2 linked regions of the Homo sapiens genome follow. The protein of the gene in region 1 purifies or fractionates together with the protein of each later gene. This does not show direct contact. Each region holds a gene or a part of one and is shown on either strand. Other genes may lie near its edges.

Region 1 (3,500 bases):
TTAACAGGCCCTGTGAGAATCACAAGTTGTTGTTTTTTATCTCCTTGTTGAATCAGGATAAGCTTGCATACTAAATTTAGAACTCTTCTGTTTTGGAAATCCTGTGTGTGTGTTTGAGTTTTTCTCTGTATCTATATCCTGGAAGGATTCAGCAACATGTATATCAAGTAAAGCTTAATTTTTCAAGTAGCTTTGTGCCAGGGATCGAGCCTGCAGCAGAGTGCCCATACCAATAAGCACCACTGAGTTCCCTTAAGTATTATGTCAGTCAAGAAGCAGAACTCTATGAAATATCCAAGTTGCTCATGTTCACCCTGACTTTAATCCCTGACCCAGCTTCCTTCTGTAGCTGAAGAAGGGATATTTGCCTTTTCAAATAACGCTTCTTCCTAGGAGTTGATCAGTAAGGTTATTATGAAGCACTCATTTTAGAAATTTCAAATCTCAAAAGTATACTCAAGGTAAAACTTGTAAATTTCAATGAGATCTTATTAGAGCATATTCCCTTCAATCTATGACATTTTTCTAGCTTTACATTGTTTATTCCCATGGTAAACATAAAAATCAATACTGAACAATAGAGTCTATGAACTTGAAACAATGTTTAACAAATGCAGATTTTGGGGTATTATCAAAATGTGGCTATGATTATGGAAGTATGTTTGAAACATGACCATGATACTTTAGAATCAAGATGGGAAATAAATGAGAAATGTTTTTATTAATTTGTTGCATTAAGATGGAGGTTATCAAGAGTTGTTCTGTCAGACATCCTTAATTTCAATAAGCACACACAATTGATGCAACCACTAATCTGTGCTTCATATATAAGTTTTCCTTATCAATACTTATATTTTATAATCTTGAAAAGGGCTCTGTCTTGCGAAGGTAAAGGTAGCATTCTTTGTTATTTATTGTAATGAAATCTTCTATACATGACTTAGTTTATAATTTCTTTCACTTGTTGACAATGTGAGACAGGAAAAAATATGAAAGGACAAAGAGAGGAAGAATAGCCGTTTAAGTGGCCAGGTGTGTGCGGGTGGTTGTAGAATAGAGGAACACATGAATGGAATCATGGGGAAAGTCAGTGGTGTAGGGCAGAGGAAACTGAAGTGAGAAAAGCCCAGCTTGGGGAATGCAGAAGGAAAGCTGAAGTCAATACCAGGAGCATATTGAGGAAGAGGACAGCCCCAGACCTCATACCTTCCACCCTCAGAGATGCTGCCAGTTATGTTTTTAGATGAGGTAGCTGATTCAACACAATCTTCTCTTTCATGGTTTCAGTCGTCAGAAATTGTTTTAGAAAGTATTGAATTTCTATAGTCTCAAGGATTTTTTTGAAAAACACTAAAATGTGATAAATTTATGCAGTTTTTTTTTCTCCTTTCATTCCTTTGTTCTTTTAGTTGATGGCAGCTCATGCCAGTAGAGACAGAGTCATAAAAAACTGTATAGCCCAGACTTCAGCAGTAGTAAAAAACCTCCGAGAAGAGAGAGAAAAGAATTTGGACGATTTAACGTTATTAAAACAACTTAGAAAAGAGCAGACAAAGGTAAGTTGAACAGAATTAACATTTCTCAGGCAAAGTTTTTCCAATTGTAGCCTTCAAAGTAAGATTTTTAATATGAAAATTTTGGCATATAATATGGCAGTTACTTAAAAAAATGATCAAGAGATTAGTGCTTCATTTTTAGTGAGCTTTATTTTATTATGTTTAGTTATTAATTGGTAAATTAATGTGCACTTCTTGAACAAATGCAGCATAGCAGCTTTGTCTAAAATAAGCACAGTCATAATTTATTTTCATTTCTTTGTTTCTTTCCCACTATTAAAGACAAGGGATCACTACAGGTGAAGTACCACATCAGAAATTCTGGGGAAATCACATCTGTACAGTATCTGCCTTTTGAGACATAACCTGAGAAAAACATCTCTAATATATTTTGGAAATAGCTCCAGTTTCATTGTGTAGAAATCTGCTGAAATGTAATATAGACTATTTAACTTCAGGATATTACCCTCGTTAGCCATAAAAATATAGTATGATTTAAATATAACCAGATTTACTTGTACCTCATTATAATTTATTTCCCTACTGTGTAAAAGTTGCTAGGGATCTTTGGCTTTTTCTTGGACATGACTTTTTCCCATTTCCTCCCCTATCCCTGCAGTGTTTTTACTTTTAAGAAAATAGCAAGTACCTACCTAGGGATGTGTCAGAGGAAGCCTTATTTTCCCAAATCAACTATAATGTAGATAGGGTGTAGACTTCAGAATACAGTTAATGCAGCAGAACTGTTTCTTTACAGCACTTGTATGTGACGTGTCAAGGAAACAATAGAAAAATACAGCATATTTTATTATGTGGGATTTATTGCTGTCTTTCTTTTGAGGGGACTCTTAGGGGGTAACTTTTTATCTTGTATAATTTCAAACTTACCAAAAAGTTGTAAGAATAGTGTAAGGAACTCCCATGTGCCCTTTACCTATATTCACTTATTGTTTATATGTTGCCCCACCTGCTTTACAGTTCATTCTCTTCACCCTCCCTCTCTCCTTCTCTTCACCCTCCCTCTCTCCTTCTCTTCATCCTTCCCTGCCTTCCTCCCTCTCCCTGTCTCCCCACACACCTGTATGCATAAATACAGTTTTTTCATGAACCATTTTGAGACTATGTTATACACATTGTACCACTTTACCCTTAAACTCATTAGTTATTTCTAAGAACAGGGACTTTTCCTACAGGACCAGTGTACAATTATCAAAATCATGGTTTTTTTTTTGTTTTTTGAGATGGGGTCTCACTCTGTCACCTAGGCTGGAGTGCAGTGTTGCAATCTCAGCTTACTGCAACCTCTGGTTCTGGGGCTCAAGCAATCCTGCCTCAGCCTCCCCAGTAGCTGGGACTACGGGCGCGAACCACCACACCCAGCTTATTTTTTGTATTTTGGGTAGAGATGGAGTCTCACCATGTTACACGGGTTTATCTCAAACTCCTGAGCTCAAAGTGATCCACCTTCCTCAGCCTCCCAAAGTGCTAGGATTATAGGTGTGAGCCATCACACCTGACTTCATGTTTGTATTTTAAGATGGCATAATAGGTGACTTACGGATCCTTGTGGGATTGAGTCATGCTTTTCATACTGCACAGTCATGAAGTTTGCCCTTTGTTTAGTAGATGTAGCTGAACTTTGAAAAGGGGACCTCGTCATCTATTGAAAACTATTAGTAGAAAAGAAAAGAAACCTCTTTCCTTGTAGCTGGCTGCACACAAGGTGAGTAGGCCAGGCTGCTGCACTTTTTCGATCATTCCGCCAATTCTGGATGTCTCACTGGATCCAGGACTCAGCCACTGTCTTTGCTGCTCTCTTTGTTCATGACTACTGCGTCAGGTCTGTATTCCATACCTGCTCATGCCACAGGCACTGGTGGATCCCTTGGACAGTGACCTTATGCAGTGATGTTGATCTTACTCCCCTTGCTGTTCATGAAGGCA
Region 2 (3,500 bases), on another chromosome or scaffold:
ATCCTGATCAGCACTCACTTCCCAAGCTTCTGCTTAGACTTCAGGCTCTGATTACTCAACTCCGCCCCACCACTTCCTCAATGCTGCAGAAAAACCATCACAAGTGAACACCCGCCAACTGTGGATGCTCTCAAGGTGGAAGTTCCCCTTTCCTTCCAGTCTTGGCCCCACCATAAGCCATCAGTGTCTGGCCCTTCAGCCTTACTCCAAGAACAGCCCCAGGTGCTCCAGGACAGGCTGGCCCTCCTTGGTCTGCAGCACTTCTCAGAGACACTCTCGCCCTTCGTTCCATCAAGAAACTCCCTATCAAAGGATCCATTTCACCCCTAATCACCACACTAAGGAAATCCCGAGTTCCTGGGGCACATCTTCCTAACGATCGGGGTGGGATCATCCTGTACAGCAGAGAGGACGTCACTGGACACCTCCCCAAGAGCTGAGTTTGAGGGCAAGGGACGCGCTGGGCTTTCCTGCTTGGCCTTCTGGTTTGGAAAATCATCGCTTGCTATTTTCAATAAAGACAGCACAGGCTGGGTGAAGTGGTTGACATCTGTAATCCCAGCACTCTGGGAGGCTGAGGCAGGAGGACTACTTGAGGCAAGACCAGCGTGGACAACAGAGTGAGACCCTATCTCCACTATTTAAAATAAATATTATAAAATAAAAAAAATAAAGACAGCATGGCCAAAGCAGGTGGGTTAACAAGACCCTTCCAAGCCAACACCTGTCAGCCCAGGCACCTGGTTCTCAGGCCCCAGGTACATCCCCAGTGCCTACAGGGATTAGAGCCATCTACCCAGCCATTCCCTCATTCTCCCTGGTTCCCAGGTTCCCCAGTCTCGTTTCTCTTTTCTGCCCTTCCCAGAACCCCAAGATCACGGTCAAGGCCCACCTCTGGCCCCCTCCCCAGGTCCCCACAGCTCTTATCAGATATGTAGCCCACCCCTGGAGGCAGTCCTCTAAAGGGCCAGTGTCTGCCCACCCCTCTCGGGGGCCAACAAGCCTGGATGTCTGTCTCAACTAAATGTGCTGCAGGCTCTGCTGGCCTGATTTCATTTTTCAAAGGTGCAGTTCATATTGGGAACAGAGTGGAAGTTATCACAGGAGCTTCATGCTGACACTGCAGGAAAGAGAGACGGAGCCCAGTGACTGGAGGCACTATACTGGCTGACGAACCTCACCCAAACTCGAGTTTAACTGGAAGCTGGGGCGGGGTGGGGCTGTGATTTCAGAAGGAAGCAAAGAACAAGGCTGCGCCAGGAGAGGAGAGTGGAAGAAGTTCAGAGAAAGAGTGAGACAAGGGAGGTTCCGTGACAGTTTTCCGTTGTCCAAGAGACTGACTCTGAGTCAGCATGGCCTATGAACCTTCTTACAGCAAATCCTGCTGCCAGATCCCCACATACAAGGATGTCAGACCCAGGAACCGTAAAAGGACAGAGGACAAGCCAAGCCTATGTGTTATTCCCTGCCCTTCGTAAAAGGAGGGTTCTGTGTCTTGGTCTTTCCAGCAGTCACCTATCGTGGCTAGGGAGAGCCTCAAGAGATTTCCTGCCCTGCTGGTTTGTTGCACAACCAGAAAGAGCCACGCACACTTGCCAGCCGAGTCACGGACGTCCCAGAAATGCACACACTTGATCCCATCAATAATGCGTCCCCGGCCGGGTGTGGGGGCTCACGCCTGTCATCCCAGCACTTTGGGAGGCTGAGGCGGGCGGATCACTTGAGGTCGGGAGTTTGAGACCAGCCTGGCCAACATGGTGAAAGCCCATCTCTACTAAAGATATAAAAATTAGCCGGGTGTGGTGGCACACACCTGTAATCCCGGCTACTTGGGAGGCTGAGGCAGGAGAATAGCTTGAACCCACGAGGCAGAGGTTGCAGTGAGCGGAGATCGCACCACTGCACTCCAGCCTGGGAAACTGAGCAAGACTCCGTCTCAAAAAAAAAAAAAAAAAAGGGTCCCCAGACATGCACAGCCCCAGCAGATAAAAGGGGCTGGTTTAATCTCTACTCATCCAGCATACCAACAGCTTGGGACAGGTTGCACACAGTTACCCAGATATACAAAGTAAGTGCCATTTTTCAACTGAAAGTGGCACCACGAAATTCACATTGAAATATTTATGTTAGAACAAATAAGAAAACTATATAAACAGGATAACCACTCAGAGCCCAGCTTAGCCAATGGTCACAAACAGTTACACACAACTATGGACCAGAAAGTAAAAGGACTTACCTCATCTACAGACACAGGCAGGATTACTCGACTATAAGAAAGGGAAAAGAGAGTATCAACTTTAGGCTGTGCAATCTGCTCAAGGCTCTTTAAAGCATCATCCTAAAACAGTCAGCAGCATTCTATTGTGTAAGACACTAAATTCAGTGACGAAAACCCCACAGAGAATGGCCCTTTGAGTGCTCTGAGGACAGGACCCTCTGTGCCCTAGAGGTGTAAGACACTAAACTCTGTGACAACACCCCCCCCCCGCCCCCCCCCCCAGAGAATGGCCCTCTTAGTGCTCTGAGGACAGGACCCTCTGTACCTTGAGGCATCCCAGTTAGAACCCTGTGATTCAGTCCAAACCTATCCTCCCGCCAGCTACTTCCCAGGCCTCCACCTCACATTCGGAACTGGACATATGGATGATAAACTTCACCCAAACTTGCCAATGAGTCGTCCCCCCAACAAGACTTGCCAGTGAGTCTAGTAAGACAGGTTAACACAGGAGGACCTATCATGGTGAGGATTCAGACCCAAACAAGAGGCCCTGGGGACTTAAATTTCTGTGGACCCAACCTCCCAACAACAGCCCTCCAGGGGAAGGGCCAGGAAGGGACCAAGCCCCTTGAAGCCTAAGAACACACACCGGGCATCTCTGCTCGGGGCTGGATATTACAATCCAAGCTGCTACCACAAAGCCACCAAGAGGGCATTCAACTTATGTCCTGACCTCCAGGAGCTGTCCAAAGGAATCCCAATTTATCATTTTCTTTTCTTCTTCTCCAACTCAATGACCACCAATTGCTGGAGATGCCACCAGCAACCTATTGGAGAAGCCGTGGCCGGCAAAGTCTCCGCCAGGGCCAGAACCCCACAGAGGTGCCAGGGCTAGCAGCACTTCTCCAGGTGCCGTGCATGTGAAATGCAGACCAAGAGCCACCCCCAGTTCAAAGCTGTGAGGCGGGAGAGCTAAGACAAAAACTCTTGGTTTTACCCATACAAGTCCAGCCAGTTTCCAAGCTTAGACGTTCGGTCCCCAGACCCTTGCTGGAGCCCTCTGGGTCCTTTTGTGTCTTGCATGTTTAGTGAAGCATTAGGGAAGCATGAGCTGCTGTGCCTTCCTTATGCAGCCGGCTCACCACTCAGGCTCCTTGCTCCAGGCTAGTAAACAGCTATTTTCTAGTTCCACAAAGGTCCCCCAGGAAGCAAGAAGGACACAGAGGGGTCTGAGGAAAACATCACCTCAAAGGCAAGACACCAAGCAGGAAAGTAGCAGGAA

Evidence for each region. Proteins that work in one complex are often made in the same cells at the same time.
Region 2: the proteins of MIX23 (region 1) and PITPNA fractionate together in Homo sapiens (co-fractionation; one large-scale study listed by BioGRID). This does not show direct contact.

Annotation. Positions count from the first base shown.
Region 1 is NC_000003.12:122,366,232-122,369,731, reverse strand, and holds part of MIX23 (protein MIX23), read left to right. Parts: intron 1-1,409; coding exon 1,410-1,556; intron 1,557-3,500.
Region 2 is NC_000017.11:1,556,293-1,559,792, forward strand, and holds part of PITPNA (phosphatidylinositol transfer protein alpha isoform), read right to left. Parts: intron 2,268-3,500; coding exon 2,237-2,267; intron 1-2,236. UniProt on the Homo sapiens protein: Catalyzes the transfer of phosphatidylinositol (PI) and phosphatidylcholine (PC) between membranes. Shows a preference for PI and PC containing shorter saturated or monosaturated acyl chains at the sn-1 and sn-2 positions.